Linked DNA regions of Homo sapiens: regions 1, 2 and 4 are each linked to region 3. The links come from fine-mapping of genetic effects on gene expression. A gene starts in region 3. Each other region holds a variant in brackets. All regions are shown on one strand. Distances are from middle to middle.

The links. PIP is the estimated chance that this variant, and not a neighbour inherited with it, causes the effect.
Region 1: its variant is the best candidate, but not a certain one, in a credible set for the expression of GABRR2 in whole blood (TOPMed, PIP 0.69).
Region 2: its variant is the best candidate, but not a certain one, in a credible set for the expression of GABRR2 in skeletal muscle (GTEx, PIP 0.75).
Region 4: its variant is the best candidate, but not a certain one, in a credible set for the expression of GABRR2 in thyroid (GTEx, PIP 0.67).

What each region holds. Positions count from the first base shown.
Region 1 is chr6:89,345,715-89,354,066 of GRCh38, forward strand. UBE2J1 (ubiquitin conjugating enzyme E2 J1) reads right to left here and starts at 7,008. Exons shown (of 8, transcript NM_016021.3): 1 at 6,825-7,008. The coding sequence starts at 6,855. RefSeq lists an enhancer at 6,314-7,263 and silencers at 6,560-6,619, 6,650-7,359, 7,370-7,469. The variant C/T (reference allele first, on the strand shown) is at 3,236.
Region 2 is chr6:89,339,452-89,345,039 of GRCh38, forward strand. It overlaps UBE2J1 (ubiquitin conjugating enzyme E2 J1), which reads right to left. Exons shown (of 8, transcript NM_016021.3): 2 at 4,232-4,305; 3 at 2,873-3,004. Among named protein-coding and RNA genes, the nearest start is that of UBE2J1, 10 kb to the right of the region's middle. The variant A/G (reference allele first, on the strand shown) is at 2,745.
Region 3 is chr6:89,312,309-89,320,568 of GRCh38, forward strand. GABRR2 (gamma-aminobutyric acid type A receptor subunit rho2) reads right to left here and starts at 2,991. Exons shown (of 9, transcript NM_002043.5): 1 at 2,745-2,991. The coding sequence starts at 2,857.
Region 4 is chr6:89,330,713-89,338,185 of GRCh38, forward strand. It overlaps UBE2J1 (ubiquitin conjugating enzyme E2 J1), which reads right to left. Exons shown (of 8, transcript NM_016021.3): 6 at 4,590-4,719; 7 at 2,374-2,493. Among named protein-coding and RNA genes, the nearest start is that of UBE2J1, 18 kb to the right of the region's middle. The variant T/C (reference allele first, on the strand shown) is at 4,940.

The DNA.
Region 1 (8,352 bases), 33 kb after region 3:
CTGACCAGCATAGTGAAACCCCATCTCTACTAAAAATACAAAATTAGCCTGGTGTGATGGCACATGCCTATAATCCCAGCTACTAGGGAGGCTGAGGCAGGAGAATCGCTTAAACCCAGGAAGTGGAGGCTGCAGTGAGCTGAGATCGTGCTGTTGCACTCCAGCCTGGGCAACAAGAGCGAAACTACGTCTAAAAAAAAAAAAAAAAGCCCTCCAGGCCGGAGGGCAGTGGTACGAACACAGCTCACTCACTGAAGCCTCAACCTCCCAAGCTCATGCAGTCCTCCCACCTTGGCCTCCCCAATAGCTGAGACCACAGGCATGCACCACCATGCCTGGCTAATTTTTAAATTTTTTGTAGAGCTGGGGTCCCCCTGTCTTGCCCAGGCTGGTCTCGGGCAATCCTCCTACCTCAGCCTTCCAAAGTGCTGAGATTACAGGCGGGAATCAGCATGCCTGGCCAAAAAAAAGTTGTTACTATCCTACTTCACAATTATTAATATTCTTTTCCATTTCTTACTCTGAACTAAGCCCCTATATGCAGAGACTTTGTTCACTGGATCATCAACTATTTCTTGAGTTCCTACTAGGTACTAGATGCTACAGCTTCATGCGTAAACAAAATATGGCTTTGGTCACTAAAGACTGACGGCTGGGAGGTGCAGTCAATACAAAACAGAATGATAAATGCTATATTAGAAATATGTACATACTGAGACACCCTCTCCCTCCAAGTCTAGAGACTGGGCTTTGGTCAATTCCCTGAACACACTTTACCTCCCCTCCACTCTCAGCCTTTCTATACAGCTTTCCTCAGGGCCCAGGCTGCTCCGGCCCCATCCTCCGCCTCACCGTCTAGTCTGGCTACCCTAGACCTTTAAGTAACTTCTCAGGAATGTCTCTATGACACCTTCCCTGGTTGCCCCCTGCCCCCCACCCCCTACAGTGCTTGGAGATTTCAATCTGGGCAGATCAAAATCTCTGAGGCGTCCTAGGGAGGGGTAGAGACTAGGAATGCTCTCTGAATTACTCTGGTTAGGTTTAGAAACCACTGCCCTAGAGACCAGGTTGAGTCTCCTTGCTCTATGCCATCATAACACTGTATTTTTCCTCTTATGAAGTTCATCTCACTTGTAATTACTTGTTTAATATCTGTTTTTCCTGCTAAGCAATAGTAATGACAGTGTAGCTGTAGCAGTACAGTCTCCTCAGGGCTTAGCACATGGTAAGTACTCAAATATTAGTTGAATTAAATTTTACTATCTTCTCTCAACATAGCTCTCAGAATCCGATTAAAGGCAATGGTTTTTAAACTTACTTAATAAAACAATTAAACTTATTTAATAAAACAAAATCCTTCATTCAAAGAAAGCTTAATGAGAACCCCAACAGGTGAAACAAAAACCACAGAGCCGCTTTGGTTGCAGAGGCCAGTGGAAGGGCCTGCGGACTATCTACTCCCTGTCCTTCCATTTCACTCCTGAAGGGACCCATAGAACAAAGATGGAAAACCCTGCTTTAAAGCCACATAAACATATCATTCCTTTAAGTTAATATTATTAGATAGAAATGCAATTATGGAAGCTGTTATGAAGTTAATTAGTTTGGAGATGCCAAAAAGATTGTTTTTCCTTCATTCCTCGTCAACTGGCTGAACTCAATAATGATTAAGCTGAAGTCAGATTTTATGTCATTCTATACCCTTATCGCATTTTCTCTGCCTCTTCCCTACTCAGTTCAGTTCAACAGGAGAGAAGAAAATAAACACTCAAAACTTGTACCTGGATATTATGAGAGATGTATAAAGGGTCAGAATTGTTATAAGAATGTATCTGTACCAATCCTGTAAAGGAACAATCATTGGTTCAACAGCTAAATAGCTAATTAGTTCATAAGTCACTCAGGCACATACCATGTAAGAGCTAAGGTCATGTAGCCAAAAGGTGAGATTAGTCTCTTGTTTCCATAAGCTATTTTTTTTGCAAAAATAACATATATTATGAATGCTTCAGTGAAAAGAAACAGGGACTCGATTTAGAGCTGCATTAAAATTCTGACTCTGACATTTTGTAGCTCTAAGTCCTTGAACAAGTCACTTGATCTGATGTTTACATCTGTCAAATAAGAGTCAATAATTTCTCCACAAAATTCTCCTTTCCTTTTCACCCCTCCTTCCTGCCCAGTCCCTGAGTCATTAAGGTTGAAAATGGACTGGTATATAAGGCCTTCTCAATGATTCTTCCTAACTCAAAACCATGCCTCAGCAGATTTCGCTGGCCTTATGATATGGCTCCCTGGCTCCTGAGGAGAAATACCACTGTTAGGAAACAGTCATGGTTCACAGTGCTGCCTGGCAACCGGGCTACAGCATAGTCTGCCCCTCCTGATACTCCATCTCTTGCTTCTACATGGCTAGAGAGGAAACTTTTATTCCAGCTCCTCTCCTATCTCTTGGAAAGGTTTTTCCATGGAATCCTTTCACTGTGGTGAGATAAGATGTGCCAGGAAAGGAAGGGGTGGCACCTGGATGCCTGCTCTTGTTCTTCTTTCTTATAGAGGCCACATGGACACTCTGGAGCCATGCTCTAGGTGCTGTGGGCCTAGGCATTAGCATTCTTCACACACCTTGGCTAGCTCACTAGCCTCACATTGGGGTTTGTATACAGCTAAAAATAAAGGGATCTTCTACAGGCCACTGCTTCCCATATATGGATTCCTCTTCAAAAGCAATTATCTTGATATTATCAATTCCCAAAGCATGAGTGAAATGCAGGAGACAGGTATATTAAGGAAGGCATGCTCCCTAACTGCCTCTTCCTGCTCCCATAATGAAGGTACTTAAGCAAATGCCTACAGAGTGATGTTTCTGCCCAGGAGGACCCTGCAAATGTATCAGTTCAACAAACATTTAAAGAATGTCTGAGTGTTGGAGATAAAACAATGACCAAGACCTGCTTCTTGTCTTCCGTAACAGTCAGTAGAGAAAGACATGAAAATAATTACAACCAAGTGGTAATATTGACCAAGTATATATGTACAAGTATATATAGGAACTACTTTAGTCTGCCTAGGGGAGCTAGACAAGGCTGAACCTTAAAGCTTGAAGAACTATAGGAATTTCAGATGGATTTAAAGGAAGGCATTCTAAGCAGAGGTTCCAACAGGAACCAAAGCACCTAAGTGAGAAAAGCTACTCCAGCTAGAGAGTCATTCAGGCAAAATGGATAGGTAAAAA[C/T]GCAGGCCTGGTGCAGTGGCTCTCACCTGTAATCTCACCACTTTGGGAAGCCAAGGTGGAGGGAACACTTGAGCTCAGGCGTTTGAGACCAGCCTGGGCAACATGGTGAAACCCTCGTCTCTACAAAAAATACACAAATTAGCTGGGTGTGGTGGCACACACCTGTGGTCCCTGCTACTCGGGAGGCAGAGGTGGAAGAATCACTTCAGCCCAGGAGGTTGAGGCTGTAGTGAGCTGTGATGGCACCACTGCACTCCAGGCTGGGAGACCCTGCCTCAAAAAAAAAGAAAATGAGGAAGAGCATAAGAGTGGTGGACAGTGAGGCTGGTGAGGAAGGGCAGGGTCAATCATGAGCAGCCCTGTAGGCCAAGCTAAGCAGTTTACTTTGAACTTTATTGACAGCTATCAGAAAGCTACTGAAAATTTTTCAATTTGGGGGTAATCAGTTTTTGTTTTGATTGATCTGGTGACAACAGTGACTGATTAGATATATGTGTTTCTGTGTGTGTATTGAGTTGTGTGTTTCAGGGCAGGGATGGAGCAAGGAAGCGACCAAGAAATAAAAAATGACTCCCATAGGTGCCTGAGTGCTGTCTATCCCTGAGATATGAAATACTAGGGTAAACTGCAAGTTTAGGGGAGGAGAAGAAAACTGATGAGTTTTGTCTTTATACTTACAGAGATTTTTTTCACTCTATGGGAAATGAAGATGTTGAGTCACCATAAGTTCTGTGTATCTATAGCTTACGAGAAGGGCCTGAGTTGGACATGAAACCTTGAGTGGATTAGTGGGAAGGTGCAGTTGACACCAATGGCATGGATAGGTAACTCTTAGACTTCTGGTGGAGGCAGTGGGTACTTTTGCACCAGTCTCTTATACTCCCACCACCTGCTGCACATGTCAATGGCCCCCTGATGAAGAAGCTGCCAAAGGAGGTGCTTTATACACATTTCTTCACTTTGTACTATAAGACCCTACTTCCTTGGCCAGAGCAGACCCAAACACGGGTCAAGTAGCTTGATCCATAGACAACTATTGACAGATTATAGACAAGTAGCATGATCCATAGACAACTACTGCTACTACAGTAGCAGATCCATAGACAACTACTGACAACTACCACAGACAACTACTGTGAGGTGATCCTACACAACAGCTCTATCCATAATCACAAGTCCATTCCAAAAAAAAACCATAAAGCAAAAAGTTTCCCCACCTATGAAATGAAAAAATTTACTATATCCACATGCTAGTACACTGGCCCTTAACCAGCTATCTGTATTGTCTTCACTTAATCTTTCCACTCATACATCAAAGACAATCCCACATCAGATAAAGAGTAAAAGATTATATCCCTCACATTGTGTGGTTGTTTTTTGTTTGTCTGGTATGTTGGTATTTTACGTGTGTGTGTGTGTGCACCCTGCCATACACAGGAAATTGGAGTTTTCAGTTGCTCCCCTTCACACAGGCATTACTCTAAAAATACCACAGGACTGAGAATAAAGCAAAGGAAGGAAGTATTTTCACAATGCCTCCCAGCATTTTCAGTAAGTCCCATATCTTACCTAATTCAACTTCTCCATGAACTCCAAATAATTCACACACTAACAAAAATAGATTTTTAAGAAGCATTGTGTTTTTTTTTTTAGAGCAGCAACACTATCTTTGAGGAAATGAAACCAGAAAAAGGAAGCAATTTATGACACAGCTAGAAGCATGTCAACCAAAGCTCAACCAGCTGACAATAGTTCACATACTTTGGAAATATACAAAATTCTGGAGATTTTTAAAAGCTTATCATCATAGTATTAAGTCTAACCTATCGAAATTGAGCGATGTTTTCTGACAACAATCTCTTGGGTTCCACCAGTTCTCCATTCTAAACTGCACTACTACTCACATGTGCATTATCCTCTGGACCTTTCACTAAGCACCTCTGCTGTCCTAAGGAACCGTGTGACCAGGGAGCCACCATACATTTTTACCCAAACAGCTCCAGTTAAATATACCACAATGTAAATAATTCAATCATTTTACCATCTAGCTTAAAAATTAAGCTTTTCTTTCCCTCTTTCTCTTTGGTCTTTTCTTCCTCCCTCCCCACCCCGGGATTCTCTTTTTTTTTTTTTTTTTTTTTTTTTTTTTTGAGATGGAGTCTCGCTCTGTCGCCCACACTGGAGTGCAGTGGCGCGATCTCGGCTCACTGCAACCTCCTCCCCGGGTCAAGCCATCCTCCTGCCTCAGCCTCCCGAGTGGCTGGAACTACAGGAGTGCGCCACCACCATGCCCGGCTGATTTTTGTGTTTTTAGTAGAGACGGGGTTTCACCATGTTGGCCAGGCTGCTCTCCACCTCCTGGGCTCAAGCCTCCCAAAGTGCTGGGATTACAAGCGTGTGCCACCGTGCCAGGTCTTCATCAGATTTTTTTAAGGAGTCAGTGGCTCCTAAAATATTATGACCAGTTCTACACACTTGGTCACCTAAGGACATTTCTTAGCCTGACAGCACTCAGGCTAACAAAGCTCCCTCCAATCAATATCCTCAGGCTTTTCTGGGGTTTTTGCATATTCTGAAACCTTACAAAAAACCCAAAGATTCACAGTGTCAACTCTTTCCACAAGGATGCTAGTCTTGCTAATTCCTACTGAGAAACAGCTTTTTTTGGAAGGAAATTTTAAGCAACAGCAAAAGTTGGTGAAATCATCACTAATATCCTAGAGTTTATCATGCAGAGTTAACTGTGGAGTTTCTTCCCCCTGACAAAATGTATCAAGGTACAGATAGAAAAAATACCATTTAGAGGATCCAATGATTCATTTCAAGCCTGTTTTATTAAGCTGAGAAAGCTAGTTGCTTATCTTTATAATGCACCAGAAAGTAATTAGAGGCTAGGATTGCTGGGACTGCTTGTGTAAATATAAAGCAGGATCATTAAATGCAGGAAAGGAATCGCTACGACTGAATACAGATACATTTCATATTAGCCAGTCTGGCAAAAATCAAGGTTAGCTCTCAAGAACAGGGCTCAACGAGGTGTTTTTTTGTTGTTGTTTTGTTTTGCTTTAGCTCTATAGTTAACTGGTTTAGTTACAGAACATTTCCTTTATGTCTGTAATTGTATTCGCCCAAGTGCTGCAAATAGGATATTTAAACGACCAACTCCTCAAATGTGAGTAAATCAGCCGGCAGTAAATAGAAGTAAATAGAAGTCCGGTGGCAGCGACAGGGAGGGAATAGCGACCAGGTACAGCGAGGGGGTTGATGACTATCGCCCACCGACATCACCTTTACACCTGTTCTCAGGGATGAGTTTCTGACCCAGCTCTACGGGACCAGGCGAAGATGAGAAAAGGGAGAGGCTGGGTGCTGCGGGGCGCGCTGGCCGGCCGGGGGATTGGCAGCGGACGTCCACCCGGCCACCTCGCCCTGCGGCCTGTACTTCCCGGGCAGGCGGCGGTCTCGCGTAGAGCGCGAAACCAGGAGCTGAGCCGCGAGTGGCGCCAGACGCGAGGGGACCGAGGCGGCGACCACCCCGGGGTCCAGGGTCACTCCGCCCTCCTCGCCCAGGGGCCCCAGCCCTGCTCACCCGGACTCTTCAGGTTGTAGCGGGTCTCCATGGTGGGTCGCTGGCTTGGCTCCGGCCTCCCGGGCCGCTGCCACCTCCTCTCCACGCGGCCGCTGCCCGGGTCTCAGCGCGGCTCGGGCGGACGGGGCCTGGCCGAGGAGCCTCGGCAAATGCCGCCCAGTCCAGCCTGGACTGCGGGCGGGGTGGCAAGGCTGAGTGCGGGCGAGGCGCTCGCTTCGCGATGGCGCCGCCTCCTCCACTGCGCCCCCGCCTCCCTGAGTGCCTGGCAGGCACCGGCGCCGGCCGGGGCGGCGCTGAACCGGGCGCCCGGGCTGGAGGTCAGCCTCCTCGGGTAGTCGCAGGCCCAGCCCTGCCGCGGCCGCCCGGCTTGCGTCACCCGCCCTCGTCCGGGATTTGTGAAGTTGCCCTGACGTGGCAGTAGCTTCGTGGCGGTCGGTCACTACCCAGCCGCCGCCCGCCCGGCGAAGCCGGCTTGGGGAGGTGCAGGAGCGAGCGGCGTCCTCGTCCTCTCGTCCCGGCCCTGCCCGCTGTAGGCGAGGTCCGGGACCCCCGGGCCCTCGAGAGCTCGGAGGGGGCGCCGGGCTCCGGCTGCAAAGCTGTCCGCAGCCGGCTGCCCGCGCGCGGTCCCGCAGGGTCTGGGAAAGGCTTTGTTTTTAGATTCAGTTGCTGTTGCGAGGGGCGGGGGTTAAGTGAGGAGGGGGAAAGCCAGTGACAAGGAAATGGAATAGGATTTTTTTTATTTTTTATTTTGTGTGTGTGTGTGACGGTGTCACCGCTCTGTCGCCCAGGCTGGGATGCAGTGGCGCGATCTTGGCTCACTGCAGCCTCTACCTCCCGGGCCCAAGCGATCCTCCCACCTCAGCCTCCAGCGTGGCTGGGACCACAGGTGTGTGCCACCATGCCCGGTTAATTTTTTGTATTTTTGTTAGAGACACGGTTTCACCGTGTTGGCCAGGCTCGTCTCGAACTCCTGGACTCAAGCGATCCGCCCGCCTCGGCCTTCCAAAGTGCTGGGGTTACAGGCGTGAGCCACGGCTCTGGCCAGAGTTGGATATTCATAACAATTTTTTTCTCGGGTAGTGTGTTAGGTGCACGACATGTTTTAGGCATTGCAGGAGTTTTGTTTTTTTTGGTTTGTTTAGATGTAAAAGCTGTCAAAAAAAGGAATTACATTTAATGTGAGGGAAAGCATACAAATATGAAAGGTTAAACTTCAAAGGACACACTTACTGCTTCATTGTCCAATGTGTGGGATCGAGAGAGGACTGAGTTCAAAAGACTTAAGGAGTAGGGACCTTACTAAAGGAAAGGAGGGAGGGATTGGGAAGGTGGGGAGGATAGAAAGGGTTAATCAGGTTGGGCAAGTTTTATTCTGTTATATAAAGACATAAACTCTTAAATTTGATTTGTTTTCTATTGTTAAAGTTAATCTAAATCTGTGAGTTTCTTGATGAAATTGGGAGTAAAAAAGTGAAGGATATCTAAAATTAGATGGTATATTTTAAATCATTCCCTGATGTTGTTTTCT
Region 2 (5,588 bases), 26 kb after region 3:
AGAGGAGGGGAGGAGAGGGGGGGAGGGGGGAGGAGAGGGGATGGGGGAGGAGAGAGGGGAGGGGAGGGGGGAAGGGAGGGAAGTGGGGAGGGGAGGGGGGAAGGGATGGGGAGGGAAGAGGGGTGGGGAGGGGAAGGGGGAAGGAGAGGGGGGAAGGAGAGGGGAGGGGGAAGGGGAGGAGGGAAGGAGTGGGGGAGGGGAGGGGAGGGGAGAGGATTTACTAATGTCCTACCCTGTGCCTAGTATGGAGCTAGGCTCAGTTAAGAATCTAAAAGAGGCCAGGCATGGTGACTCATGTCTGTAATCCCAGCACTTGGGAGGCTAAGGTAGGAAGGTCACTTGAGGCCAGGAGTTTGAGACCAGCCTGGGCAACAAAGTGAAACCCTGTCTCTACAAAAAATAAAAATAAAAAAAATTTAGCCAAGCGTGGTATGTGTGACTATAGTCTCAGCTACTCAGGAGGCTGACGTGGGAGGATCATTTGAGTGTGGGACATCAAGGCTGCAGTGAGCTGTGATCATGCTATTGGACTCCAGCCTGGGTGACAGAGTGAGACCCTATCTCAAGTTAAAAAAAAAAAAAGAATCTAAAAGAGAAGACATTCAAGAGGCCAGGACGAAACCTAAGGACTCAGTATCACCTAACTAGATGTTAGTGAGGAAAGACATGGGGAGAAAGGCTCTGAGAGAGGTGTGATTTTCAGAGGAGTGATGAATGAAAGGATAAATAAATACTTATTGAATGAAAGTTGGAGAAGACTTTTCAAAAAAGAAGTGAACCAGAAAGAGTGTAATGTTGAAAATCAGGGCTGATTCTCAGCCAGTGTGGTTAGTATGACCATACCATTGGCTAACTATTGAAATATACCTGTATTTGTTGGTAAAGAGCTGCTGCTAACTACTGTCCTCCACCACCACCAGTCTCCCCATGCACCAGCCCCTCCCTCCCCGAAGACCACTTAGCTCTCCCCATGATCTAGCAACTAAATAAAATGACTCCTGACACAGTAGAGTGTCTCCAGGACCCTGCTCCAACTCTACTGCCAGCATTAGCAGTTCTCTATATCAGCTAATACTTATTAAGCAGCTTCTATATGTCAGGTACTTTATGGTGTGATTACAATTACCAAACACAACATTCATTTTGACTGATGAGAAAACAATTTTAAAGACATTGTGTAACCCACCCATAGTGTAATGGAAAGAGCACCAGTCAGAATCTAGGCCTATTGGCTCTTAAACAAATGTTCTCTCTGTTATACAAAATAGAGGTAAAAGCAGCATTAATTTGGTATTTATTTATTTATTTATTTATTTATTTATGTTTTTTTTTTTTGAGATGGAGTCTCGCTCTGTCGCCCAGGCTGGACTGCGGACTGCAGTGGCGCAATCTCGGCTCACTGCAAGCTCCGCTTCCCGGGTTCACGCCATTCTCCTGCCTCAGCCTCCCGAGTAGCTGGGACTACAGGCGCCCGCCACCGCGCCCGGCTAATTTTTTGTATTTTTAGTAGAGACGGGGTTTCACCTTGTTAGCCAGGATGGTCTCGATCTCCTGACCTCATGATCCACCCGCCTCGGCCTCCCAAAGTGCTGGGATTACAGGCGTGAGCCACCGCGCCCGGCCTAATTTGGTATTTATTGATGAATACCTGTTGTTTCACCATTTGCTACTCCGTGTGGGTAAGATGTTTAACTGAGAACAGGATGAAGGCTGAGGAGAAGCAGTGAGATTTCTCAAACTGGTCTCTGAGATTGGTGTAGTTTCATGTTTCAACAGGGCACTATGTGTGGAAGGTGGACTGCAGCAGGCCAAACTACGGAAAGGATGCCTTGGAGGTTACCAAAGAGAAAAATAGGCACAGCTTAAAGTGATAACAGATACAGGGAATGGTTTTTGTGTTTGTTTTTGCTTTTTTCAAGGTTAGGGGATAATTAAACATAGTTAAAGGAAATGAGAGAAGAAAAGCTTAACAATTAAAGAGGAATTAGATCAATAGTTTTCCTTGGCCAGGTATGATGGTGACACCTGTCATCCTAGCACTTTGGGAGGCTGAGATGGGAGGACTGCCTGAGGCCAGTAGTTCAAGACCAATGAGACCATGTCTCTACCAAAAAACTTTTTAATTAGCTGGGTGCAGTGGCATGTGCCTATAGTCCCAGCTACTCAGGAGGCTGAGGTGGGAGGATAGCTTGAGCCCAGGAGTTTGAGGCTACAGTGAGCTATGATCGTGCTACTGCGCTCCAGCCTGGGCAACAGAGAAAGACCGTGTCTCTTAAAAAAAAAAAAAAGTTTTCCTTCACATGAAGAAAAGATGTGTAAATTTGGAGAGAAAGAGAGAAAATCTGAGATATAAACAGTAATAATAATGCTAACACTTATTGAGTATTCTGTGTCAGGCTCTATTCTAAGAGCTATACAATAAGATCTTGATACTTTTCATCCCACATAAACTCAATGAGGTAGGTATCATTATTCTCATTGTAAAGATGAGAAAACTGAGGAAGAGAGTGTAAGAAAGGTGGGAAGTTAAAGGAGACAATATGATTACAAGGTACAATAACATTAGCTACCCTTTAGTGAGTACTTATGAAGTGCCAGATGTGTATGCCCAGCACTTGGCATATATTAATTCATTGAATCCTAACAACCATGATATGACATTTATGCATTCAGTTGTATCATTTTTACTTCTCAGATGCATCAGCTTCCTAGGAATTATTTTGGAGGAAAAAAATTGTAGTCCC[A/G]GGGCCTGGACCCCAAAAGCAAAATTATACTGTTCTATTATTTCTTAATGAAAATGATTTGCTTACTATATTTTGCAGCTACCAGGAAGAGTGAAGCCACAAGCACTCTAAAAATCCAAAATTCTTACCGTTAGGAGAATAATGCTTGGTGGTTTCATGGGATACTCTGGTGGCAGTACTATCCGCCCGTGATAAACTCCTCCATCAAAATCGGAGTCTGGGGGCCCTCTAACCGTGAAGTGCCATTCAAAAAGGTTATCCTGAACAAAAACAATAATCCACAAGGAATTAATAATATTGAAAAGTTTGATCATTTTATCTGAATATTAGAAATATTACCAAGCAAGAAAAATTAAATGCTTTATATTATTGCTAGTATAGTTTCTAATGCATGAGATGTCTCGAGACTATAAGTGATAAATTAAATTTATAAGTAAAAGCTATTTAATCTAGCTTTCATGTTCCATTGAGCTAAAATATTTTATAATAAACACATTAAAAATTTCTGAGTGTTGTTATATATTCATAAGTAACTTACAGGTTTAAATTGGAAATTAATCCTTGAAAGAATAGCAAATTATGATAATTATATAATCAAAAAATTACTATGTTTGGGTTATTTTAACAAATCTTTAAAAATTATCCCTTATAGATGCCTAAGAGCTTATTTATAAAATGGTAATACTAATGTATTTAATGTCATCTTACAGTTACCATGTACTTTTCAGTTTACAAAATACTTGCACTTAAGTTATGATATTTTTATTCCCACTGTTACCATGAAAACCTGCCTGGGTATATTTAAATACCCTCCTTTTACAAATGAGAAGACTGAGAGAGGCCGAGATGTTTATACAAAAAGCCTTGAGTAGCTACGGAGACCCATCAAAAGGCTTCCAAACTGTAAAGTATCTGGGGTTCTTTCCACCTCCCCTCCCTCAGACTCAAGATCTAACCTCGGCCGGGTGCAGTGGCTCACGCCTGTAATCCCAGCACTTTGGGAGGCCAAGGCGGGTGGATCACGAGGTCAGGAGTTTGAGACCAGCCTGACCAACATGGTGAAACCCTGTCTCTACTAAAAATACAAAAATTAGCCGGGCGTGGTGGTGGGGGCCTGTAATCCCAGCTATTCAGGAGGCTGAGGCAGGAGAATTGCTTGAACCTGGGAGGTAGAGGTTGCAGTGAGCCGAGATCACATCACTGCACTCCAGCCTGGGCAACACAGTGAGACTCCGCCTCAAAAAAAAAAAAAAAAAAAAAAAGATCTAACCTCAACTTAGCATCTGAGACCCATTTTATAAAGACCACAAAATCCGTTTCTTCTAAAGTGATTTGGAATGGCTAATGAAATATTCATGAAATATGGTGAATAAAACGTCAAACTACATCACACACATCTGTAATGACTCAAAGCAATGAAAAGCAATTTTAAAAAATTTGTTTTAAATATTAAAATCCATATGAAGAACATGGAGATAGAAACTAACCTCTAAAGGCTGCGCATGGTAATGATCTGTTGGATCTTTCAATTCTGCCGCTTCTTTCATTAAACGTTTAACAGCTAAAATAAAATTCATAAAATAGAGATATTTAAAATATACTTTTCTGAATGATTAGCACAGTCTTACGAGCCTAATGAAAAAATGTGTAGAGAACTAGTGCAAATGAGCATATGGCAAAGGTTTAATTATAAGATTATGGGAATAAATAGAGGGGGAGAGGAAGGAAACAGTTGCTAGGCATTAACACTTTAAAAGAGTTATATATTAAATATATAGTGAAGACACTATTTTTATTTAATAAGTACTTATATATACTTCCTATATGGTGGTATTTATTGAAGTGCTTTTACAGACATTAATAACTCATTTAACCCTTAATACAACATTACTAGATAGGTATTATTTTTATCCCCATTTTCCAGATGAAGAAGCCGAGACACGGAGAGATTATATAGTCACACAGCTAGTAAATGACAGAGATGGGATTCCAACACAGGCAATTTGGCTCTACCTGTTAAAATGTCTTTATTAACAAAAAATGTATTCTCTGGATCTCATGCTCGGTGAACAGGAAACACCTCTATATCCTCCAACTCTTGGGACTTTCCATCCACTATCTTGCATTAAATGAATGGACTGTCCCCTGAATTCACTGACTCTCCAAAGCCCCGATGAAATTCCTTCTTGAAATGATCCTTCAGCTTCACTAAAACCTCCAGTCCACTGACCCCACAACTTTCTTCACCCCTCCTATACTTATATTCATTTTCCTCTTTATCCACACCCTTGGCTCTTAGGAGTCCCTCTTGTACACTCCCTTAATAAAATCCAACTGTGCCTGACCCAACCCAACCATCTTATTTGCTGTCTATACCCAAACAGCTGAGCATCACTGAAAGGAGGAAAAAAAGTCAGAGAGGATGGTGCAGTAATGCCATTACAAGTCATTACCAACAACCTCTACTGGGATACAATGCCACCTAATGTCCCCACATTTCTCTAGTAGGCCTTCCAGCCTACTCTTTCCACCTAGCACTCCAAGATTATTTCCCACCTAGTCTAATTTCTCCTCTCTTTCAGTTAATGGCACCCAGCTTTTTATCTCCCTGATGAATGACTGCTAGCAGGAGCTGCTCAGATGCCTATCACAATCTACAATCCTATCTGTATCTGCACCCTCTGTCTTCTATTGGCTCTCAAAATTCAATCCTTTGATATGCACTCTGGATCCCAACCCCTCTCATTTCAAGCTTTTGGTGCTAAAACATGTCAGGATACTGCAGTGGGATGGCTGAGTTAGGGAAAAGGCTTCTCAAAACTGGGTTTGCAACCACTGATGTAG
Region 3 (8,260 bases):
TTTAGTACACAGAGACACAAAGCAGCAGAAAATAGGGGCTGGTCTTTGTAAAAGCAGCTGCTGGGCGGAATCATTGTTCTGTGTGCATGCCTTGGCTGGGGTGAGGCAGGGAAGGCTTCCAGGTTCAAAGAAGTCTTCACAGTGTGCATGTGTGAGGGTGACCATGTGCATAGTGTGTGCCCGTGAAGTCACATATGTGGCATGCGGTATGTGTGTGAGTGTGACCGTGTGTGTGAACAGGACTTCTAAGAAAAGGAGCAATCCTAAAGAGAGAAAGCACTCTAAGACTGTAATCAGAAGGGGTCTGGTCATTTTCTTATTTGTTCGTATAGCTTGACACCTGCGTGTCAATAATGAAAGTAATTTGGAAAAATAAATTGTCAGAGGCTTGGCTGAAATGTTCACAAGGAGGCGTCACCCTGTTGACTGTCTGACTGTGTGTGCATTCTCATGGATGCAGAAAGGCCCAGAACCACATTCCCTGTCCTTTTCCCCCAGCCTCAGTTTAATAAATATTTTACTTCCTTGAAATGTATGTGTTCATCTTTTCCCACTTTAACACCTCATGGGCTGGATTTCAACAAAGTCTCCTCCCCACTAAGAGTCAGAGCCCAGCTGTGCCCAGGCTCATGCGCGGGTTTGGGAATGAGACTGTGGACTTCTGAGGAAAAGTGAGACGGAGGTGCCGCCAAGCCCAGGCTGCTGAGTGGGGTCCCTGGGCACCCCAAGGGACTTGTGCTGAACCCCAGTTCTTACAGAATAGACAGTTTTGAACAGATTTTCCTCCAGTCTAAGTAAATCAGGAACCTACATTCTAGTGTTGGGAAGCCACTAGCAGGCCGTGTGACTTACTCATGCCCCTGAGCCATTTCAGCATCTGTCAAATGAGTTGACTTGGACAGTTTCCCAGTGTGTGCTCCATGGAGTAGGAATCCCACAAGACAGTCCAAAAAACTGTGGATTTTTTAGTTGTTTCTGAGAAGCCCTGCATAATTTATCCCTCTCTTCAAGATTCTCACAGTGCCTATTTGCATAACAAAGGTTCTAAAAGTTCTGCTGTAGAGACATCTGTTGAAAATGGTCTAAACCAGGGTTTTCCACGTTTTGGTGGCCCTGGAACCCCATTTCACTCAACAGCCATTCACGTTTCCCAAAATTAGAGTTCAGGGGACTTGCTGGGCCGATGACATCTGAGGCTCCTTCCAGTTTAACAGCCTATGGTTCTGGCAACCCAACCCGCATGGGTTGTTCAGAGCAGGGCCTCTGAGGGTTTTGATCTGTTTGCCTTCCGCTGAGTAGGACTAGGCTCCAGAGAGAGTAATTATAGGCTGGGTGTGGTGGCTTCTGCCTGTAATCCTAGCACTTTGGGAGGCCAAGGTGGGTGGATCACTTGAGGTCAGAAGTTTGAGACCAGCCTGGCCAACATGGTGAAACCCTGTCTCTACTAAAAATACAAAAATTAGCCAGGCATGCTGGTGCACGCCTGTAATCCCAGCTACTCGGGAGGCTGAGGCAGGAGAATCGCTTGAACCCGGGAGGTGGAGGTTGCAGTGAGCCAAGATTGCGCCACTGCACTCCAGCCTGGGTGACAGAGAGTCCATCTCAAAAAACAAACAAACAAATAAACAAAAGAGAGTAATAACCTCTCCCAGAGCAGCAGTTGCCACTGGGATACTGGAAGTAGAGGCTGTAACTCTTATTTATATTCAGGGTTTTTTTTTTTTTTTTCTAAAAATAAGAAATCAATTAAACTTTAACATACATATTTATAACAGCACATGTATGTGATTTGTAAGTAAATATGCATGTATTAGAGGTACAGTTTCAAAAACTTGTCATTGACAGCAGCGCATGTTCAAAAATGTTTGGGGACTGACCTAGAAAATGTGCCTCAAGATATTAATTTATATTCAAAACCACTAGTTTATCTGATGCTTAGTAGAATGGAAAATAAATGTGTAACATGCCACACATGGTGTTTATATCTTAGCTGCTTGTTCTTTTCTTATCTCCATGTCTAACAGTCCTTATGTCTACTTCAGGCCTGGAGTATGATGCTTCGTATGTCAATTCAAAATAAACTTCCTAAGGAACTTAGATTTGTAATGTAATGATTTTGAATGCAGATCCTGGGCTATTATTTCTTGGGAATGTCTCCATTACATCATGAAATTGCATTCACTGTTGTTCACACATATATTTCTGATAATTAAGCAAATTTCTGAACACCTCTTCTAAGATTCAAAACAGTAAAATGAAACCCAATATCATTATAAAGTTATTCTCTGGCAAATAATTTAAGGAAGACAACTCCCGTATGCATTTTTTTCTTAATAGTTCAGGCTAGGTTCCTATATACAGTTCTCCCCAAAATACTTGAGTGTAATTATTTAGCAGGTCATCGGTTGTAACCCTGAGAAACAAAGCAGCACAATGTGATTTGTACAGAGAATGATTTTACCCACTACGTCTCCAACTATTTATATCTGCCTCAAATCAAAATGCTTTGGCTGAACGCAGGCATCCGAAGGAAGGCTCATCCCAGTCTAGTTCTGCTCTCAATGCTTGTGACACATAGAGTATGTGTGCCCAGGGAGAGGCTGCGTTCAGTGAAGTAGCTGGGTTCTCATTCTCATAGGGCGATATCTCAATAGGACCTTAGCCCCCTGGGGAGCCATCCCACTGTGCCACTGCTGCTGCTACTATGCAGGGTAACCTCCCTCCTTTCCCACCTATGACTTTACCTTGGCTTGGGCATTTCCACCTGCCCTGTCCATCGCTTCCTCTTGGGTTTTCTGCTCTCCACGAGAACCATCAAGCAAAACAAGAACAAAATGAGTCTTGTAAAATAAGGCATTTTGTGGACATCTGTGAGGCAAAAAGCTGCTTTCCAGTAGCCTGTGGCAGAGCAAATCCCCCCTGGCTTGACCATTGATCCATCTGCTGCCTCCTGACGGGCTGCTCTGAGGGGCTGTGAGGGCAAGGCTGGCCAGGCTAGTTGTCCCGATTTACTATTTGATACTGACGCCCCACTCACCCCCTCCACTCCGGGCCATGACACAAACACCAGGCTTTGCCCTCCCTGCTGATTAGTGATTGGCCATTAGTCGAGAAGTTTGTCCTCATGAAATTCTGCTTCCACTGAATCCTAGAATAGCTTTGGCTAAAGCTGTTATATAAAAAATTAAATCTCTTGAACATGCCAGCTTTGTGCTGAGATTATTGGTCCATCTTCTGGCTGCATAAAACCAGTCTGTCCCATCCACCAGGGGGTCAGCTCGGATTCCAAGTAGATTTGCAGAGAGGACTTGGTGGACATTTAGATGGGTACATAAATGTGTTCAGGAAATGCTGAGTAAACATGAATGACCTGTTTCCTTAGGGTTGATTTATTTATGGAGCTAAGAGAATATGCTTTGCCTATGAGCAAGGATACTTCCTTTCTCACAAATATAGATCAACTTTTTCCAGTGAAAACATCAAAGCATAAAATACATTTTTAGTTTCAAGGATGACATTAATCATAGAATTCATGATTATGTAAGCTTTTCTTCCTACCATAAGCATTAAATTAACTTTGGCCTTTAACCCTAAAATGTATAAAATCAATCATAAATTAGGCTTTATTCCTATCCTGGGATATGGAATTAAGCACATTAGAATTGTAGAGATACATGTGGTTATGTCTAACCTACTGAACAAAATAGAATATGTTTAAAAACTACTCATTGCTTGCTATGTCCTGGCAATGGAAAATTTCATGGTAGAAACATAGGGAGATGAGGACAGAGATCAGGAGGTGGGATAGCCGTAAGTGAAACAGAATTGGGATTTTACTATGTATAAATGACAGAATCAAAAGAAGCTCTTTGATTCCCTTAAGCAAAGTGAGATGGCATGATCTACTTTATTTTTGAAATAATTCCTAATTGGGATCAGTCGAATCAGGGAACTTATGATGACAAAAGAGAATAAGGTCCTGCTCTGAGGGAAGCGAAGAAGGAAGAAGAGAAAGGAAGACAGAAGAGTGAGATACTCAAGTTAGTTCTGCGGTAGCATACATTTGGTGCCTGTGCAGATAGAGTAGAAGGTGAGAGACAGAAAAGTCAACAATAATATCAAGAATTCTACGGTGGCTCACACTTGTAATCCCAGCACTTTGGCAGAGGCAGGTGGATTACCTGAGGTCAGAAGTTCAAGACCAGCCTGGCCAACGTGGTGAAACCCCATTTCTACTAAAAATACAAAAATTAGCCAGGTGTGGTGGTACGTGCCTGTTAATCCCAGCTATTCAGGAGGCTGAGGCAGGAGAATCACTTGAACCTGGGAGGCAGAGGCTGCAGTGAGCCAAGATCACACCACTGCACTCCAGCCTGGGCGACAGAGCATGACTCCGTCTCCAAAAAAAAAAAAAAAAAAAAAAAAGCTAGAGCATGAGCCTGGAGTTCAGGAGAAAGTCTAGTTCTATTTCTAGACTATAGAAATAGATCTGGAGCTGTAGAGACCAAGTGAAAGTTTTCCCTTTGCCCCATGGAGGATCACCAAAAAATCAACTGACAAAAGGAAGATTAATAGGGGAAAAGGCATACAGATTTATTAACATGCATGGAGGAAAATCACATCATGATTACCCAATTACCCAGCATGGTACAGACATTTATATACCCTTTTTCATAAGGAAGAGATGGGGGATGTAGGCAATTCTTTTGAGGGACAGTAAATCATTAGGGAGGATGAATGGACCCAGGAGGAAAGTGAGGGGTGGAACTACACAGGAACTAAAGTTGTCTTATACAGATAAAGTCCAACAGGTAATCTCTTAAAGCTGCCCTCAGAAGACTAGATGAAAAGTCTATCTGGGTGCAGTGAGAACTCCCAGTCTCTTCTCTTCTCAGATGGTTGATTTTTCCTGGTTATTTTGTGAGATCCCTAGGTAGGGGGTCTTAAGTGCATTTAAACTTTCTTAGATAGGGAAATTCCAGAGAGTCCCTCCCAGTTCTTTGTGCAAGAAGAGCAGAGAGCCTGACCAATCAGTAGGTTAACAAAGAAATTCAGACAGAAATTTAAAAACTTTTTGAAATGAAAAAAAGTACAGCATACCAAAGCCTGTGGCATATAACAAAAGCAGTGCTAAGAGAGAAATTTACAGTATTCAATGCCCATATCAAAAAAGTAGAAAGATCACAAACTAACAAACTCCTATGGCACCTCAAGGAACGAGAAAAGCAGAAGAAACCAAACCCTGAGTTAGCAGAATAAAAGGAATAACAAAGATCAGAGCAGAACTAAATGAAATAGAGACCAATAAAACGATACAAAGGATCAATAAAAAAAAAAGTTGTTTTTTTGAAAAGATAAAGAAAATTGACAAACCACTAGCTAGACTAACCAAGAAAAGAAGAGAGAAGCTCCAAATAAACACAATCAGAAATGAAAAGGGAGACATTACAAATGATACCACAGAAATACAAAAGATCATCAGAGTCTGTTATGAACAGCTTTATGCTCACAAACTAGAAAACCTAGAGGAAATGAATACATTTCTGGAAACACATAATCTCCTGAGATTGAACCAGGAAGAAATAGACCTCCTGAACAGACCAATAACAAGTAGCAAGATTGAATCAGTAATAAAAAAAATCTCCCAAAAACTAAAATAGTCCAGGACCAGATGGATTTACAGACAAATTCTACCAAACATACAAAGAACTAAAACCAATCCTCCTGAAACTATTCCAAAAAATCAAGGAGGAGGGAATTCTCCCTAACTCATTCTATGGGACCAGTATCACCCTGATACCAAAACCAGACAAGGACACAACAACAACAAAAAAAACTACAGACCAATATTCCCAATGAATATAGATGCAAAAAATCCTCAACAAAATACCACAAATTGAAAACAACAGCACATCAAAAAGTTTATACACCATGATGAGGTACGATTTATCCCAAGGATACAAGGATGGTTCAACATACACAAGTCAATAAACATGATACATCACATAAACAGAATTAAGGAAAACTATGTGGTCATCTCAATAGATGCAGAGAAAGTGTTCGATAAAATTCAGCTTCCCTTCATCATAAAAATTCTCAACAAACTAGGCATAGAAGGAAGATATCTCAACATAATAAAGCTCATATATGACAAACCCACAGCCAACATCATACTTAATGGGGGAAAGTTGAAAACATTCTAAGAAGTGGAAGAAGACAAGGATGCCCACTTTCACCACTCTTATTTAATATAGTACTGGAAGTCCTCACCAGACCAATCAGGCAAGAGAAAGAAATAAAAAACTTCTAAATTGGAAAAGAGAAAGTCAAATTATCCGTGTTTGCTGATGATATGATCTTGTTTCTAGAAAACCCTAAAAACTCCACAAAATCCAACCATGGAGGATGATGAAAAATTAAAAAAGACTCCATAAAAGCCCTCTTAGATTTGATAAATGAATTTTGTAAAGTTTCACAATACAAAATTAATGTACAGAAATCAGTAGTGTTCCCACACACCAGTAAAGATCTAGCCAAGGACCAAATTAAGAAGGCAATCTCTTTTACAATAGCTACAAAAATAAAATAAAATACCTAGGAATATATTTAACCAAGGAGGTGAAAGATCTCTTTAAGAACTACAAAACACTTATGAAAGAAATCCTAGATGACACAAACAAAAATGAAAAAACATCCCATGCTCAAGGATTGGCAGGATCAATATCATTGAAATGGCCATACTGCCCAAAGCAATCTACAGATTCAATGCATTCCCTATCAAATTATCAAAATCATTTTTCACAGAATTAGAAAAAAAAAATTCTAAAATTCACATAGAATCCAAAAGAGCCTGAATAGCCAAACCAATCCTAAGCAAAAAGAACAAAGCTAGAGGTTTTACCTGACTTCAATTATGCTACAAGGCTGTAGTAACCAAAGCAGCATAATACTGATATAAAAATCAACACATAGATCAATGGAACAGAATATACAATCCAGAAATAAAGCCACATACCTACGGCCTGGGCAAATAATTTATGACCAAGTCCTCAAAAGCCAGTGCAACAAAACCAAAAATAGACAAACGGGGCCTAACTAAACTCAAAAGCTTCCTGCACAGCAAAAGAAACAATCAACAGAGTACACAGACAACCCATAGAGTAAGAAAAAATATTTGCAAACTATGCATCAAAGGGCTAATATCCAGAATCTACAAAGAACTCAACAACAACAACAACAAAAACAAGTAACTCCATTAAAAAGTGGGCAAAGGACAAGAACATTTTTCAAATGAAGACACACAAGCAGCAACAAGCATATAAAATAAAATGCTCAACATCACTAACCATCATAGAAATGCAAATTAAAACCACAATGAGGTACCATTTTGCACTAGTCAGAATGGCTATTATTATAAAGTCTAAAAACAAAAGATGTTCACGAGAATGCAGAGAAAAGGGAATACTTATACACTGTTGGTGGGAATGTGAATTTGTACAACCTCTATGGAAAACAGAATGGATAGTTCTCAAAGAACTAAAAATAGAACAACTATTCAATTCAGCAGTTCCACTACTAGGTATATACCCAAAAGATATCAAAAAATACTGCACTCATATGTAACAGAGCAGGAGCTTCACCATCTTGGACAAACACCACCATTTTAAATTTCCCTTGATTAAAAAACAAAACAAAACTGCCTAAATCCAGCCCCAAAACATCAGCCTAATGGCTAACGTCAGAATAACCAGAAACATTCCAACCCCTAAGATAAACCCGCTCCAACCAGAAACATGCCAACCCGGAGATAGCTTCCTCTCTAACCAGAGACATTTCAACCCCACAGTAACCTTTTCCTCACATAGAAACACTCTGAACCTACAATAAGCTCCCCTCTTCCTAAACCCTTAAATATCCTTAGTCTGTAAGAGAGAACACTCCTGACCAAAAATCGGCCAGAAGCCCCTCTCAGGTTTATTCTCCAAAATAAACCTGTCTTTGACTGTTGAGCCACTTTTCATGTTTCTTTCCTTTTTCTTTAACTCTTACAATACGTTTATCACTGCACTATTTACGATAGCAAAGACATGAGACTGATGTGCTGCCTCCTGCACTAAGGAGGCAACTTCCATACCAAAGATACAGAATCAACCTAAGTGTCCATCAACAAAGGATTGGATAGAAAAAAATAAGGTATCTATTTATGCCATGGGATGCTACTTAGACATGAAAAAGAATGAAATAACATCTTTTGCAGCAA
Region 4 (7,473 bases), 18 kb after region 3:
TTGAGCTCAGGAGGTTGAGGCTTCGGTGAGCTATGATCACATGCCTGCACTCCAACCTGAGCAACAGAGTGAGACTCTCCCTTAAAAAGATAAAAAATCACATTCTTAGTTAAGTCCCTAGTGATATATATATAAATTTTTCTAGAATAACCAGCATGTGTGAGGGAGTTTTGCTTTTTATTATAAAATGAAATGGCTTATTCAGAACCTCGATCCCTACCCTGGGAAAAGGAGAAAATCTGACAGACTGCAAGAACAAAACTGCCTTCAGTGTTTTTCCCATTTCTACATTTCCCATTGCTTTTTGATGCTAAAATATCTGCATTAAAAAGCAACAGATGGCCTGATGTTATCTGAGGTATTTAGAGTTGTGGCAATCTCTTGCCTCTCCTTCAGGCTAACAACAACAAAAAAATCATAGCTTATCTGGGATTTGATGTATAACATCTCAATTAATTTATATTATACTTAATGTAAAATAACCACCCTTAGCCAAACCAGGTTTCAGTTACTTTCATAGTGGTCAAATTATATAATCATACTCTGAGATAGTTTATATGTAAATATAATTAAAAACTTAACTTGCAATTTTAGACAATTTATTGCTTGTTGGTATTTTCACTAAAAATAGTCTCAATTAATGACCTGTATCTATGAATAAGAATTCTAAGTTTTATGTACTAAATCAAAACAAGAAATACTACTATAATAACATCATTATTTGTACACTCTAATTTACTTAAACTTCTTGATTTATTTAATTGTATTCTTAGCATTTTTTAAAGTACCAATCCTAAGATTCATTCATTCAATCAACAAACAAACATTGGCAATCTACTATATAGAAGGCACTAAGCCAGGCACTGGGGATACAGTGGAGAAGCGGAAAGAGACCCCTGACCCTCACAGAACTTACATTCTGGGAAGAGAGATAGACAATAAATAATTACAAAGTAAATTACAACTGGAATAAGTATAACTGGAATATGTAACAAGGGGACTTAACATAGATTGAAAATACACAAAAGATTTAAATACATCACAAACATTAGGAGGCTGTCCTAAAAGGTGAAAAAAGATTACCACCTTCCTTTTTGTAATAGAATGCTTCTATTAGAAAAAAAACTATGAAATAAAAAGTAATTAGAAAGCTTTTTCAATATCTTGAACTAAAACATATTGACCTTAAAATTAATTCATTGTTTTCCCCTGCAATTCATAAAATTACATTGGGATCACACAAAAATGATTTAAACTCATCGCTACACACTTTTTTCTTGGACCTCCATCTTCAGTCCCCCTAGACTACCACCCTGTTCTTCTTCAACCAACTTTTCTCTGCCCAGCTCACTCTCTGAATAGGAGAGACTCACTCAAGACTATTCACTCCCACTTTACGTACGTTATTGCTGGGTAAAGGGCAAATCTATATTTGCCCAACTTCTATTTCAATTTTCCCTCACCCTTTAAAGTCTTCAATAAACTGGAGAAACAACAACAAAAAAAATGTGACTACTTAACCAAACAATCTGTTACCAAAAAGACTTCCAAAGACAGTTAATCTTTTATATATAGGAAGGAAAATCATTTTTTTCCCATAATCCTTATTTTTTGGCACCAATCCAGTCATATTTTTTAAATCACTCTCTCTGATCACCTAGGCCAAACAATTTCTTAGACAACAGGTCAGGGCACCACTAACAACACTCATAGCATTCATTCTTTTATTCAACAATTATTTATTGGACACTTAGTATATACGAGGTAGCATTGTCCAACAGAATTTTGTGATGATAGTAATGTTTATGTCTACACTGTCCAATATGGTACCCATTAGCCACATGTGGCTATGGAGCACTTGAAATGTGGTGTGACTGAGGAACTGAATTTTAAATTCTACTTGATTTTGATTAAATTTAAATGTAGACACCTGCATGTGGCTGGTGGCTACTGTGTTGGACAGAGCAAGTCTAAGTAAATTTTTGGCTCTACGACTTTATTAAGTCAGTACCTTAATGCAGCTGAACAATCCTGCCAAAAATAGTGTCTATTTAGAAAGTGGCTAACATATGGATATTTTGTTTTATTCAGTCTAACACTATATTAAAATTAACTTTTCAGAGAATCACAGAATTCTGGAGGGACAAGACAAAAATTATTTAATCCAGCCCCATTTAACAAAAAAAGAAAACTGAGGCCAGAAAGCATGAACAACTTGCTCAACATAATAATTCATTAGCGGGACTGATGAGTTAGAATCCAGTTGTTAAGAGAACCAAATTTTTCAGATATTTGATCCAGGATCTTCTCCTCCTATTGCAAACAGTGATAATGATAGAGACATACATATATATTAAAAGATAAGAGCCATACCGATGTACTGGCCGTAGCACCCTGGAATGTTGTAGGTATATCATCTTGTAAATCAGTTAGTGAAAAAGAGTGGTTTAAGTCTGACTCAGAGATAGTCTTTCCAGATGAATTGACTTCTGCCTATAAACAAGATAGACCCAAGAGCAGTGTGACAACAGGAAACAACAGGAAACATACACAATCTACAACCTGCTAAATCCTCTCTGTTGGATTTATTTTAATTGCTAGTTTAATATCTATTATCAGGCAGTTAATCACTGAGCACTCTTGTGTCCAACACTGTACTAGGTATCATAGGAAGAAGCATACACAACACCTGTTCTCAAGAAGCCGTTACTTGATGAGGGACAAAACTAACACCCATGGTTCACAATCCACAATGCTAAAAAGCTCTCAAAACTCAAGGTTTTTTTGGTAATTTTTAGGCAAAGCCTGATATGAGCTGATGTGAACCTATGAATAGTCTTTATCCCACATTAGTGTAAACATTAATCCCACATTAATGTAATATTCCCAGATTTGCTGAAGAAATCCTAATGGATTTGATTATGAGGTGCTGCCCCAGATCGCACGGCAGGTTAGTTAATATATGGTATATGTAAGATCTTTTCTTAAGTCTGAAAAATTCTCATGTACAAAACACATTTGGTCCTGAGATTTTTCAGAAGCAATTTTAAGTGTAATAGGAATCCTCAGAAGGAAGAAAGTAAACATGTTCTGAGCAACTCCTCCTCCAGGCACTACAATAAAAGAGAAGGGAACTGGACCTGGAAAGACAGACAGTCCATAGAGAAGTGGAGAGGGAAGAGGAAGAGAGCATGCTGCTTAATGCAGGTTGACATTTCTGTTTGTGAAGCTAATTAAATTCCAGAAGGATTAAATACTTAATACTTTACGTCTGTATGTATGTATGTATTTATTTATTTATATTTTTTTGAGATGGAGTCTCACTCTGTCACCCAGGCTGGAGTGCAGAGGCACAATCTTGGCTCACTGCAACCTCCACCTTCCAGGTTCAAGCGATTCTCCTGACTCAGCCTCCCAAGTAGCTGGGATTACAGGCACACACCACCATGCCGAGCTAATTTTTTGTATTTTTAGTAGAGACAGGGTTTCACCGTGTTAGCCTGGATGGTCTCAATCTCCTGACCTCGTGATCTGCCTGTCTCGGCCTCCCAAAGTGCTGGGATTACAGGCGTGAGCCACTGCGCCCAGCTAATACCTTCAATAATTAAATATTTAATACTCAAAGTATTAAAATATTATATAATCCTATGTTCGGGTAAAACATATACAGAAAAAAGGGATATATAGGAGGGATGCCAAAATATTAACAGTAGCTATTTCTTGGCGGTGAGATTATGAATGTCATTTTCTTTTTCTTTTTTCTTTTTTTTTTTTTTGAGATGGAGTTTCGCTCTTGTTGCCCAGGCTGGAGTGCAATGGCGCGATCTCGGCTCACCGCAACCTCTGCCTCCCAGGTTCAAGCAATTCTCCTGCCTCAGCCTCCCGAGTAGCTGGGATTACAGGCATGTACCACCATGCTTGGCTAATTTTGTATTTTTAGTAGAGACGGGGTTTCTCCATGTTGAGGCTGGTCTCGAACTCCTGACTTCAGGTGATCCGCCCGCCTTGGCCTCCCAAAGTGCTGGGATTACAGGCGTGAGCCACCGCGCCCGGCCATCATTTTCTTCTTGTTGCTTATCTATATATTCTGTAATAATAGCTAGAATTTATTAAGCACCAGGGACAGTTCTGAATGCAACACATGTATTACATATATTAATTCAATCCTCACAGCAATCCTATGATTTAGGTACCATTATTATTTATAGATAATAAAAAGGCACAAAGTGGTTAATTAATATGTCTGACATCATACTACTAATAAGCAACAGAGCTGGGATTTGAACCCTGGCATTGTATACCAGAGTTCAAGTTTCACTCCCTCACTATTCTATAAAGCTTTCATGAATGTAGTTAGGAATTTTGTAATAAGAAAAACATTCCATGCCAGTATTAAAACATTTCATGTACCCTATACATATATACACCTACTATGTAACCACAGAAATTAAAAATATAAAAATATGAAAAAAGAAAAACATTGGCAAATGTCATATTGTAATAGAACTGCATCGCTTTCCTTTCTATGCAGAATCCAGCAGTAAACAAAAGGGTTGCAAGATTAGCATTTATTTAAGAATTTATAGTACCTTAAAGCTTATTTGCCTAGCCAGTTCTTTGGCTTCTTGGTCAGCTTGGCTTGAATCGCTTCCAGATTTTAAAGGCAACAGGACATCCTTCATGGCAGAGCCACATCCTTCACAACAGAAATCTTGTGATCTAGTAGAAAAAGATTTTTTAAATGAAAATAAATAGTTAAATGTTTAATTCCCTCTCACTGAGACACTCAAATGCTCGATCATTAAACTTAAAAGAAAGGAACACTGGAAAATTCCACATCACATTTATCCACATGCTATGAATTAGAAAATTAATGTAATGATTATAGTCCTGAGACAAGTAAATGTTAGGCTGGCTTTAAAAAAATCCAGGGCTCAGA[T/C]GCTATTTTTTCCAATAAACTATCTAAAGAAAAATAAGTTTTACATCTATACAATGAGAAAATTGTCTATTATACTGTCCTTGAGATCACATATAACAAACCTATTTTAAGGCTGTGAAAAAAGTCCTTTAACAAGATCAAATTATCTGTTAGCAGAAATATATATAAAGCAGTAAAGAAACTAATTAAACATAGAATTTACAGATATTTCTAGGGAAAAAAAAACCCCTCACAAATAGCAGTATAACTTGAAAGACTTGGGAGAACTTGCAGAAAATCCAAAGACTTAATTTATTGCTGATTATACATTAGGTAGAGACTCAGGATATGTCTGTTAACTAGATTATTTTCTAAAATATATTTGTTTTTCCATTTTTCCCTTTGTATTCCAGATATAGTCAAAACTTCCTTGAAGTTTACAAGAGTCCTCTGAGGATATGAATGACTGAAAGTAAACATGCATCATATATAAAACATATATTGTTACACTGTTAAACTTCCTTCTAAAAAATTGTTTTTCATAGTACTTCTAGTTCTATTAAAAAACCTTAGGTCTTGAAGAACATGCTATTTAAAATTATGAAATATCATATAAACAAAATATATGTAAAAGTAGCAATAATTTAGTTTTTCTGTTTGTTTGTTTGTTTGTTTGAGACAGGGTCTCCTCGTTCTATCACCCAGGCTGGAATGCAGTGGTGCAATCATGGCTTGCTGCAGCCTCAACCTCCCAGACCCCAGTGATCTTCCCACTTCAGCCTCCCAAGTAGCTAGGACCACAGGTGTGTGCCACCACACCCCGCTAATTTTTATTTTATTTTATTTTTTTTTTTTATTTCATTTTATTATTATTTTTTTTTTTGTAGAGACAGTGTCTCCCTGTGTTATCCAGATTGGTCCAGAACTCCTAGGCTCAAGCGATCCTCCTGCCTCAGCTTCCCAAAGTCCTGGGATTACAAGCATGAGCCACTGTGCCCAGCCTAATTTAGTATTTATTGATGAGTATTTCTTGTTTTACCAGAAGTGGCACTGTTGACCACACACCTTTGAGAATTGGTTATATACAAATTATTTGCTTCAAAATGTATTCACTTTTAACTGAGTCAGATGAACCTTAAGGGGAGTGTTTATTTTGAATGTATTAGTTTATCCACAATGGTAGCATGCTACCACGGTTGAATGCAAAAATCTTTGTTTTTTTTTTTTGAGACAAGGTCTCAACTCTGTCCCACAGGCTTGAGTGCAGTGGCACAATCATGGCTCACTGCAGTCTCAACCTCCCCAGGTCAAGCAATCCTTCCACCTCAGTCTCTAAGTAGCTGAGACTACAGGCACGTGCCACCACGCCCAGCTAATTTTTGTATTTTTTTGTAGAGCTGCAGTTTCGCCATTTTACCCAGGCTGGTCTCGAACTCCTGAACTCAAGCAATCCACCTGTCTTGGCCTGCCAAAGAGCTGGGATTACAAGTGTGAGCCACCATGCCCGGCCCAAAATCATTTTTTAAAAGGTTTCTATTATAGACTGAGAATCTAGAATATACAGTGAGAAGCCTAGAAGAACAAGAACTCCAGTTCTTTTTTTTTTTTTTTTACCTCGCACATGAAATCAACTGGATAAAGGCATCAAGATAAAAAAACCAACGTAGTAAATCGAATGAAAACAAATACTATGTATTCAAAGTACATAGTGTAATCTATGAAGAGCTGTATAAATAAAGTACATACCCATAGTTTGGAAATAAGGTTTAAAAAGAAAAGTTGCTTATAAGACCAAGAAGTCTACCAAATCTTCCAGATGCTAAAATCTAACTGATTTAGCAAATATCTGTAGAGGGCCTACTCTGGGGTGTGCTAGGGTAAAATATGATATAATTTAATTAACATAATATGTCTGAAGGGTGGTAGGCAGCAGACTCCAGAGCAGAAAAATTATCAACATCAAAAATTAGGTATCAGCACTACTCAAAGAGGGGCTACTCTGAATGGAAGGACTGATCTTGGTCATATAGACAAAAGTGCACCTGCACCTGAAAAAAACAGAGAAGGCATCACTTCTCTGTTTGTGATTGCCACTGGGCAATCACAACTTGATAAAATCTCTTTTGCTTTATTCCAGATCATTTATTAAGCACTTGCTATGAGCTAGATGCAAAGATGGATAAAGTGGATTACCTCTTGGCCCTCAAGAGGTTTGTAATCTTGTGGAAAGCTACAAATAATTGCTCTGGTTCTTTTCCATCTATAATGCCATAGTGGAAACAAATGACTGGTATTGTTTTCCAGGAGAATATATCTCCCACTGAATTTTTTAAAAATAGTGAAATAGTATCAACTACTTTTTAAGACTAGATAGCATTAAATAAATTACTTAGATTCTGGTCACTCCAAGGAAATTATTACAACTGAATTCCTAAAAGAGCAAAACTGAGATAAGATCCTGTAGCTACAGTCACTCAGAAAATAAGTCACATAGTAAGAGGTAGGCCCTACCTCCTAATAGCCATTACCCTGAATACTATTCAGACCTCAAGAAG